Linked DNA regions of Homo sapiens: region 1 is linked to region 2. Evidence: fine-mapped expression QTL. A gene starts in region 2. The other region holds a variant in brackets. All regions are shown on one strand. Distances are between the middles of the regions. Region 1 overlaps CCDC92 (coiled-coil domain containing 92). Region 2 holds the start of ZNF664 (zinc finger protein 664).

Evidence for each region. PIP is the estimated chance that this variant, and not a neighbour inherited with it, causes the effect.
Region 1: its variant is fine-mapped to the expression of ZNF664 in whole blood (TOPMed, PIP 0.99).

The regions. Positions count from the first base shown.
Region 1 is chr12:123,939,226-123,944,593 of GRCh38, forward strand. CCDC92 (coiled-coil domain containing 92) reads right to left here. Exons shown (of 5, transcript NM_025140.3): 2 at 5,047-5,139; 3 at 4,122-4,268; 4 at 3,519-3,560. The coding sequence starts at 5,080. Among named protein-coding and RNA genes, the nearest start is that of DNAH10OS, 6.9 kb to the left of the region's middle. The variant T/A (reference allele first, on the strand shown) is at 2,758.
Region 2 is chr12:123,970,556-123,975,923 of GRCh38, forward strand. It overlaps ZNF664 (zinc finger protein 664), which reads left to right and starts at 2,660. Exons shown (of 5, transcript NM_152437.3): 1 at 2,660-2,797; 2 at 3,331-3,465. It overlaps CCDC92 (coiled-coil domain containing 92), which reads right to left and starts at 2,276. Exons shown (of 5, transcript NM_025140.3): 1 at 1,974-2,276. ZNF664-RFLNA (ZNF664-RFLNA readthrough) reads left to right here and starts at 2,660. Exons shown (of 5, transcript NM_001347902.2): 1 at 2,660-2,748; 2 at 3,331-3,465. RefSeq lists enhancers at 1,023-1,760, 1,761-2,498 and silencers at 1,719-1,838, 1,869-2,738, 2,809-2,888, 2,999-3,228.

The sequences.
Region 1 (5,368 bases), 31 kb before region 2:
GCACTGGACGCCACTGGACGTCTTTCCCGGGCTTCTGTCTGTCTTGCTTTGAATTTTCCCACCTGCCTGAGCTAGCAGCAGCTCTGCAGCATGTCCCGCCGCCAGACTCTGAGCTTTTGAGGGCCCACAGCTGACTGGACTGGTCTTGTGCAGGACACTTGCATGTTACAAGCTCGCTGCAGGTGATGGGCGCTCCTCGACTTAGCATGGGGTCATGTCCCGAAAAATCCAATGTAAGTTGAAAATACCGTAAGTCAAAAGTGTGTTTTCGATATTTTCAGCTTACCATGGGTTTATCTGGACATATCCATGGTAAGTCGAGGAGTGTACTGAATGGGTATTGCCCCATGCAGTTGAAAAATTTTAAGTTGAACCATTGCAAGTTTCTAGTTTTAAAAACCATGTGTCTGTGTGTGTATGTGCAGGTATAATGTCAGCAAATGACCTCCCTAAAAAGGATGCATGCAGTACTACCTTTCATGAGGTTTCTTCTTTTGCCAAAAGGAAAATAGATCCTAAAACACAGTTTCAGAGGTAGAGAGAGGGACAGAGACACACACACGACTCTGTAGACACTGTAAGACCCAGGAGCCCAGCCACCTGGGCTGAACCCCTGCAACCTGAAATGCTGACCTGGGCACGGCATTGGGCCTGGTACCCGCTGTCCTTCCCCCAGGGCCTGTGGGACAACAACCCATGCCTGTCGCAGGGCCTTTGCTTTCAGCCCACACTCGGGTGGACAGTGGGCCTTGGGCTCCTTCCGAGGAAGGGCTGCAACCTCAGACCTTCAACCACATCCCTGGCCTGCTGTGAGCATCCTGGGATTTTTCTTCCCCCAGGCAGTGCTGCAAAAGGCTGATGGACGTTTGGAACATTCAGGAACAAGGCTGTCCCTGGGCTTTGCTCATGTCCTGTGAGGGGCAGCCCACAAAGGCAGAGGGCCCTGGTGGTCGGACTGGGGACTTGGATTTGTGGGGCACCTGTCAGATGAAGATGCAGGTTCAGAGATGTCAAAGAACCTGCCCAAGGCCACACAGCCCCTCCGAGTCAGAGCAGAGGCCCAAATCTGGGGCTCATTAAGCATCACTCTGGTTCTTTTCGCCACAGCATCCTGAGAGAAGCTCCTCCTGGATAGACATCCTCCTCATCATCCTTCCTTGAGAGTCATCTAGCTGTGCTGCCTCCTCCTCCAGGGTGCAGCCTTGGCTCCGGGCTGATGTTTACCGGCCCCGACTTGAGTGGGCCGTCCTGTGGGAAGGAGCTGGTACGACTGCTCCTCCATCCCCAGCTCTGGAGAGCTGCTTCAGTGACTGTCCTTCCCAGGAATCAGCACCTCCTGTTTTGCCAATTTCTTGCTCTTTATAGAAAGCTCCACTCCACCTCCTCCTCTGTACGTACCCCCTTTCTGGAAATTTCAGTCTTCCCATGAAAGCTTGGTGCACACTGAGCTGACAGCAGCCAACTGCTGCTGGTCTCCAAACGCTGCACTGCTGAGCCTGCCCGAGCGTCAGGGCACTGCAACGCTTCTAAACCTGCGCACTCCCTGGGCCCGCCCAGACTTCTGGGGTCACAGCCCCCAGGGGAGGGAAGCCAAGAGTCTATGCTGTACCCTGGGTCCCGAAACTGCTTGGAATTGGGCAGTTTTGGGTGCACTAATGTAAAACAATGATTTTCACCACTGGGAGGGGAGACGCCCCGACTGGAACCACCTGAGAGGCTTTTGAAACTGCCTCCCCTAAGACACAGCCCTTGCTGTGAGACCCTGCTGCTGCTGGGAGTACTACATCAGGTGGGTGGGTGGGTGGGCAGGTGGCCTTGGGACCTCAGGTTGAGAACCGTGACTGGAGAGGCCACAGGGCAAAACTATGCTGCTTCAGATTAGCCTGGGCCAGGAGAGGACAGGGAGCGAGGACGCCCTGGCTTCCATGACACGGGTAGCTCCTTTCCCAAGGCTTCAGTGCTGGCAGGTGTGGACGCTGGAGGTCCCTAGTGTCAGGCTGAAATCCTGTTCCTCTGCATTCCCACAGGCCCAGCTCCCAGTCCCAGGGCTTCGGGGGAGGTCCCTGGTATCCCTCCACAGGGAGACTTCTGAGGACAGGCTCCCATTCCACCACCCCAAGAAGCCCACGGCGCCTTCCCTACCACACGCAGACAAAAAGATGTCTGGGCTCCTGGGTGGCGCACTCAGGAGGCTGTAATATGAGCAATGCAAATGGAAAAAAATCAGTGCTCGGTAATCCACTAAGGCTTGGTGGAAATGGTCTGTGTCTTTTACAAGGAACTGGACACTCTCATGAATAGTAACTGCCATTGTGAGGCCTGTTTAGAAAAAGGCATTGTGGGGAATGGAGAAGTTCTTCAAAGTTTCTTGAAACCATAAAGAGCTTGTCATTTCCTTGCTCTATGTATATCTCTATATATGTTCCAGTGTAGCTGCTCCGCCTTGCCCCGGCACGCCTGCGCAGGGCTGAGCGAGCCCTGGACCATAGTGCATGCTCTTCCTTATTTGGAAACTCTCCTGACCCTCTCATGACTAGCTTCCTCTTTTCTTTGTCCTCTTTCCCTTTTGCCTATTTAGGAAAGTTTCAAGCTGTTAGCCAATCGGGTCAAGCTTAGAATGTGAGGTCCCATTCCAGTCAATGGAAACTGGACACAGTCATAGGGCAATTGCATCAGGTTATGAAGATTATAAATGTCCTCGTCTCCTTTGTTTGAGTGTGCTCTCGTGGTAAGACTGCTGGCGAGTTGCACCCTTTC[T/A]GCAGAAAGTAAACTAGCCTTGCTGAGCCATCCATTGCCTTCCCGACGTGATAAACCCGTTTCCAACAGGTGTCTCTGCACAAACATGGATTCAGCACTTTCCAAACACCCACCCTGTTTTAGGGAGCAGGCTCTTTGCAGCAGGCACAGAGGGCCCTGGGAAGGCCTGGGTTTCTGTCTCTTCTCTGGCGGCCAGCAGGCAGCTGCCCTTTGGGGTTTCCTGAGGTCCTGGAGGATTCTGGTTTGGGGAGGGTTCTGGGGCTGTAGTCCAGAGAAAGCCCCAGATCCTCAGGGAGCTGTCTAGTAATGTGACCACTCGCCCGCCAGCATTTAGCAAGCTGCTGCTCTGTGCCAGGCCCATGCTAGGCGGCAGCGACACGGAGGAGCGGGGGCGGTTCTGCCCAATGCTGCTGCTGCTGTTACTCCTCCTTTTGGGTTTAACTCACGTCTATTTTTATGTCCTGATTACACAAGGAACACATGTTCATTGTAGGAAAATCAGAAAAACATATAATAGGCATTCCAAATATATGTGTCATTCAAAAGAAAACAAAATCACTCATCCCCCTGCCCACTAATAACCACTTGCAACACGGAGGGATCCAAACATCCTTCTCATCTTCTCTTAGAGAGCTCAGGCCACACGCATAACTCTTCCCAGCAAGAGCATTTTCTCCTAAGTGTGTGACTAGTGAAAACGGCACCAACACGTACCACAAAGGGAAACCTACTGTCATTTACTTCTGGGGAGGAGTTCTTACCTGTCTGTTCCGAACTTTTGACTGTCAGCTCATATGTTAAATCTAAAAGGGAAATGTTACACATTAATTCTTTTACTGTACATTTCAAAATCTTCATCAGCTTTGAAAATGCAAAACCGATTCCCACGATTAGCCAGCGAGTCCTACCCAGACAGAGCAGGGTTTGGCAGCAGGAGAGGTGAGCATGAGAGCAGCAGAAAACATCTGCGGCCACTGTGCTCCCTGGGGTCAGAGGGCACCCTCTGTTCCCCCAAACTCCCTTCCCCATTCCCCCACAGCATATCCCAACCATCCAAACCAAACAATCCAGCAGCTGGCTCTATGTATCACACAGGCTATATCTTGGTTATCAGTTCCAAAACACATTGGAGATTCTAACCATTGTATTTTAATCTCTTAAGTCCTCAGTATGCCAAGAAAAGGCTTTGCAGCTTTATGCTTAGTGCATCTTGATTATGCAATGAGGATGATATAAGGCATTCAGATGGACTCCTGCAACGATGATGGGAGCTGGGGGCAGGGCAGGCCTAGCACATTCTGACGCTGGGCTCTGCCGTGCCCCATAGCCGCCCCCCGCCTGCCCGGGCCTGCTCCCCGATGTACCTGTGCAGTGCTGCTGCAGCCGCCTGATCTCGGAGTGCAGCCCCTTGAGCGTGCTGGCATGCTCCCGCTGAAGGAACAGGAGGTTCTTCTGTGCGCTGTGCAGCTGGTTCTCCAGGTTTGTGGCTGCCATGCTGACATCCAGAGGACCTGTGGGTAACACAGACCCTGGCTGCGGTGCCTGAAGAGGGTCCCAGGGCTGCCTGCCCTCCTTGGCTCTGGGTGCAGAGGGGTGTGCGCCTCCCAGGAGAGAGCAGAAGGAAACCACGGCTCCTGAAGGGCAGGGTGTGGGGGCACCAGGGCTACATTCCCATCACTGCAGGGAGGCCCCAGGCCAGGGACGGCAGCCTCTGCTTCCCGAACGCCTTGGGGTGTGCCCTAGCACCTAGCACGATGCCTGGCACATGAATGAGTGAGGCCCACTCCAGAGTACAAAGTCATTTCCCTTTACTCATGAGGAAACAGATCAAGAGAGGCAGATTCGCGAGCCTGGGGTCACACAGCCAGTGAGGTATGGAGCAGGGATTCTAATCCAGGGACCCTTGGTTCCAAATCCTGTCCTCTCCACGCACCACCTCACCCCAACAGACTGTGACTGACCAAATCACGCCCAAAAGATTTCCCTGACCAGGAAGCACTGACAGCTTCCTCATGGGAAAAGCTGGCACCTGGGAAATGGGCCAAACATTTCCTCTAAATGGCATCTGGAGCCAGCCAAAGTAGGAGGGAGAGATGGGCTGAATTCCAGAGGGAAGCCCCCTGCACTTCACAGCACTGAGAGGAGCCACAGATCCTTCTTGGGAAGGTCTGAGAACGTATCTCATGGGGCCAGGGGGTGGTGCAGGTGTCTGGAGTCTGTCCCCAATGCTTGGCCCCTCCCAGCCCCAGCTTCCAGCATCTGATGCTCACTCAGGGCCCCAGACTCTACCTTCATCGTAACTCGAGAAATGTGGTGAAGTCATGGGTCTTTCTGGAAAAGCTACCAGAGTAATTCAAGACGCTTGTACAGCACTGAAAAATACTGAGGATGAAATGTGAGTTATTTGCTTATAAATTATTATTGTAAATACAGAACCTCAGAATGCATTTTCCCTAATTTGCTATTCCAGAGAACCCTCCGTAAAGGAGGTACAACTTCTCAATGGCTCCCAGGACGCAGCCCATTTGTAGGATGCCACAGTGGAACCGTTTTGGAGACACTGACACACCCAGGCTGTCACTGCTTCAGACGACACCAATTGCTCATCAAT
Region 2 (5,368 bases):
GTGTCATTAAGTTAGCACCTACCTAGCCGGGATGAAACTTCAATCTGACTCAAACATTTACTGCAACATTGGTGTGTGAAGATACAAAGTCACCTAGTCACTGCCCTTGAAGGACATGGAATTCAGTAAATTCAGTAGATATAATTAATCTTAGTTACCAAATGTGTGCCCACTATGTATTAGAAACTATTTATGGCTGACCTTGTTCCAGATAGAAGGAAAAAAGTTCCATGACTTTTCTTGCCAGAAATACGAGAAAATGCTTTTTTAACATAAGTATTTTTTAAAAGCATCAACATTTTATTAACGTTAGTATCGTTGCAAAGGCATCCTACCAATTAGGTAATTATGTTGAGATCAATTTATCCAAAGATAATTGGATAAGTTGAGATCAATTTATCCAATTTTGCAATTTATCCAACATGGCAGATGAAAGAGTTATAAACCCAAGATGAATGATTCGTTTTTTAAAGAGTTAATAAAAATATCTAATTTCAAAAAAACCCTATTTGTTAGACCGATGTATTTAAAATGTGTCACAGTAAAAATCTCACACAAATAATTGTCCTGTACTTTAGATCTTAAATGTACCTAAACTAAATTTACTGAGTAATTATAATACGCAGAGGAGTAACAAAACTATTTTAAGATTTTTCAGTGGTGTGTATGGATATGTACGCATACCCGTATATATAATCACGAGTTTTAAAGCCTTCTTCCAAGCATATTTCACATAAGATGAACAGTTAGCCAAAAGAATTACATACATTTCAAAACATCTTTGGAGGTAAAAGCCACTTTAAACGTTAGCATCTTTTTCCTTACAATGCAATAGCGAGAAAATGCATGGGAATTCTTGATGAGCAAAAAAAAAAAAAAAGAAAAGTCGTTTTATCAATACCAATGCTCTTTAAATAAATTTCAAACGTAAAAGTTTTAAAATGGCAATCCTAGTTTTAATACTCTTACAGGTTTCTGGAACTGCGTAATATGTTAAAGTATTACAGCGTGGTAGCTTGCATTTTGTTATAAAACCGACTACTGCAACCTAAGCTACAGAGCGCGGTTATATTTTCTCTCTGGCAGCCTAATTTTCCTTAGTGGACTAGATCGTACTGCTAAATACCAAAACTTGAAATGAAACAATACAGGTCAGCATGAAAACCTAAGTTAGAGAAACTCACTCGCCGTAGCAGACGGCAGCCCAGTAGCCAAGCCTGGAGCTCTGCTGCGTTTGTGCATTCTGCTCCGTTTCACGAATCACAGGCAAATCGTTACTCAGAGTAAACTAAAGCCGCATCAAAGCTTCAGGAAGGGGCTGGCAAGGTAGTGTACTTACGGAAAGGCTACCAGGACGGGAGGCGATACAACTTGTCAGGGAGGGTCTCTAAGGTTCCCCGGGTGGTAACAAGCATTTAAAAAGGCGATGTGGATTCAGACGGCCTCCTCCCCACAGCATCCCAGACAAAGCCGGGCTAGGCCCCGGGGCGCTCCTGGTGCACCTGCAATGCGGATCCCTCGCCCTGCGATCCCACCCCGGGGCAGACAGGAGCGCCCCGGGACCGGCCTCTCCTCCCCCTTGGCACTGGGGTGGGCGCGCGCCGCGGCCGGTCCGCACCCTGGACTGGAGCCCGGGCCGGGGAGCCCCCTCCCCAGAAAGGGCCGGCAGACCCCGCGGGGGCGGGCGCGGGGGTCGCCGAGCCTCAGGGACCCTCTTTCCCCGACTCCGCCGTCTCCCGAGTTGCCTTCGCCCGGGGCCACCCCTGCCCCTGGGGGAGCTAACGTGGCTCCCAAGCCCCGGAGGTGGGGCAGGAGGACCCCGTCCCCCGTCTCCCGGCGGGGAGGGTTTTTAAAGTCTTCGCCACGAACTCCCGTCCCTGCCCGGCCCCTCCGCCCCTGCCCGGCCCCTCCGCCCCCGCCGGCGCTGCCAGGTGAGCGGGGCCGGACTCGACACACCCCGGGCCCCGCCTCACCTGCGGGCGCCGCCGTCGCGTTCCTTCAGGCGGCTGCCCTCTTAGGCTCGGTCCTCCCGGCGGGCGGCGGTGGGGGCCCGTGGCCCATGGGCTGGGCGGGGCGCGGCGGGCGGGGCTGCCTGGGCTCGGGCGCTGCCCGGGCCGGGCCGCCGAGGGAGGTCAGTGGGCACCGCCCGCCCGGCGCATCTCGCCCGCTCCCACCCCAGCGCTAGCCGCGGTGCACCCTGGGAGCGGGGCCGGCGGCGAGGCCTGGCCGCGCTGACCCGGCGGGCTAGGCGCCGGCGCGGCGGCGGGCCTGTGTCTGCCGGGCTGGGCGGGGGCGGCGGGCCGATATTCACTTGGCGAGGCGGGGCTACGCCCCCTTCCGCCCGGCTGTGGCGGGGCAGGGGCGAAGGCCGAGGGGAAGGGAGGGTCGGGCCCGCGGGACGCAGGCGCACAGCTCAGGTGCGGCCGCACTGCGGTTGCCCTGGGTAACGCGGCCCGAGGGAGGGGGGGGCGCGGGGAGGAGCGAGGGAGGCGAGCGGGAGCGCGCGCGCCGGGCGCTGGGGTGGGGGATGGCCGGGCCCGACCGGGCCGGGGCTGGGGGGCGGGGGCGGAGGCGGGCGGTGGGGGCGCGGGCCGGGTGGCCGCGCATGCGTGCGGCCCCCGCTCCCCCGGGGCTTCCCCGGCCTCGTGCGTGCGCACGCGCGCTGTCCCCCGGAGGCGTCTGGGTGTGCGGAGCGCGCGCGCGCGCGGCTCGGAGGCGCACCTGTGAGGTGTCCCTGAGGAGAGGGAGGTGGGTGCGCGGCGCCCGCGGCCTGGGGCGCTGACTCCCCTCACTTGGAGTGAGTTCTCGGCGGCCGGGCTGCAGTCTTTCTTTCTTTCCCGGAGGGAGGCGGGGGCCGGGGGCCAGGGAGCGGGCTGGGGGTGGGAAGGAGGTGGAGTGGCTTAAAGAAAAGAAAAACAACCCATCCCGGAGGATGGGCCTCGGGATGGCGGGGAAGGTCAGAGCGGCTCCGCGCAGCCTGGCGGGTCCCGGGCTGAGAAGCCGCCCCTCGGGCCTCGGGCGGTCGGCCGCGGGCCCGCAGTGCGGGGGAGCGGGGCCGGGGGGCGCAGATGGCGGCCGGTGCGAGCGAGGGCTGGGCAGCGGGCAGGGCGAGGCCGGGCGAGGCCCCTCGGGAGCCGGACTCCCGAGCCAGGCTCCATTGTTGTTGGAGCCGAGGGAAGGGGGAGCGCTGCCGCCCTCGTCGCCCGTGGAGCCGCGTCTTGGAGCCCTTCCAGGCGGGTCCCGGGAGAGGCGGTCATGGCCGCGCCAGGGGACCGGGGAGCCGGGCGGCTGCGGAGGAGCCGGCTGCATGGGGTGCTGTGTGTTTTTCAGGGCGCCCTGCGTCCGGCAGAGGAGGCGAGCATCCCGCTCAGGTGATGAGGAACCCCTCGCGCACCCAGCGCAGAAGGCTGCTGCCGCCGGACGCCTCCATTGTTTGACCACAACAAGGGCCGGATTCTCACCCAGGTAAACCGGCTGCCGGCGCTGTCCACTTCCCTCTGACTCCCGCCTCCGCAGGCGTTCTCACCCCTTCCAGGACTCGACTGCAGTTTTCTCACTGTCCCCGGCTTCTCATGAACTCCGTATACCCCCTCCCAGACATTTTCCCGTCCGGATCCATCTCTCCGCCACATCACCTCTCATTTCCCCCAGAACTCAGCTCCTTTGTGAAACCTTTCTTGCCGAACTCTAACAACTAAATCTCCCCGGGAGCCTGCTCCGAACTGAACTGTTCTGGTTGCTAGATTGCTTACGGGCTGTCTTATTGCAACAAAGGAGACCAGATACCGAAAAAAGATTTCTGAGCTATTGCCTTCTTCAAGGAACGTTTTCTGATATTTACAGTTTATTGTTTTCACAGGCTGGAACGGTTTTTAGGCATTTTGGCTTCTTATTTAGAGAGGGCTCCTATTTCCTTCATAGACGCATAGTTTTTTAGAGCAGGAAATTGACCTTGTTCAACCCGCAGGTTAATTAAAAATTTAAAAATTAATTCTAAATTAGCAGAGTAGTACATTTTCTTTGTAAAAACAGCATATCACAGAGATGGCATTTTGTCTTTGACTATCAACCTCTGTCTTCAGGGATGCCGACTATTATGTGTGTGGTGTTTATCCTTCTAGATCTTTTGGAGTACTTTTACGTGTGTGCACTTAACATCATTTTTGACTGCTTTAACAAGGACTGTTGCACCGTAACTTTCAATGTTAGCATGTAATGCTTCAAGTCATTTTTTAACAACTGCTGCACCATGTTCCATAGTTTCAGTATATCATGGTTTAGCCATTTCCCAAATTGATAGCAGTTTAAGTTTTAACTTTAAAACAGCTTTTTTGCTGGTGGTGGTTCTCTGATGAGATGAAATTTCGGTGATAGGAGCACAGATCTACGCTAATTATCGAGATTCGGCATTTATGATGAAGTTCTCTTTTGGTTAAGAAATTGATATGTGGAAGCAGCCACCCCTCCCCTATGGTAGTTCTGACTCTAGCAGTTAGAAGTTGTGTGACCTTGGGGAGGACATTGAATCACACCAAACCTCGGTTTTCTTTTCTGTAAATGGCCTGCTCTGTCTGCTCCATAGAGTTCAGTGATACAGTGCGTATGTGTTGTGGAATGTAAAGTAGTATATATAAAGGTTGGTTTTATTAGCCTTTGTGATCCAAAAATTATTTGCAATATCATTTATATTTTTTGACCAGATGTGTGTGTATCATATCACAGAGCACTACAGATAGTCAACTTTGAATGCTTTTTAATTTGTGACTTTTTAAATTAATTTTTATCAAGTACTGACAATACATTAGTCTTCTTAACAATATTTTGCAAAGCATTTTTTCCTAGGGCTTTCTTTTCTTCCTCTTCATTAAAAAAAAAAAAAAAGAGAGAGAGATAGGGTCTCTTTCTGTTGCCGTGGCTGGAGTGTAGTGGCATGATTCTAGTTCACTGCAGCCTGGGACTCCTGGGCTCAAGTGATCCTTGTGCCTCAGCCTCCCCAGTAGTTAGGAATGACTACAACCATGTGCCACCACACCTGGCTGATTTATTTTATTTTTGTAATGACAGGCTCTTACTATCTTGCCCCAACTGGTCTCAAACTCCTGGCCTAAAGCAGTCCTCCCAAAGTGTTGGGATTACAGGTGTGAGCCACTGTGCCCAGCCCCTAGTGGTTTTACATACCTTAAAAAATAAGGCATATAAATTAGTTGACTGTGAATAAACATATTAGCAAACTGAACACTAGACAATACTCGCACTATAATATTTAAGCTTATTTCCTTAGAGTTGTAAGTTGTACATGTATTTTTCTGTGGCAGCAGCAGATTCAGATTAGCTTTTATGTCCTTCAGGGAAAAGGGATTGTTACTAA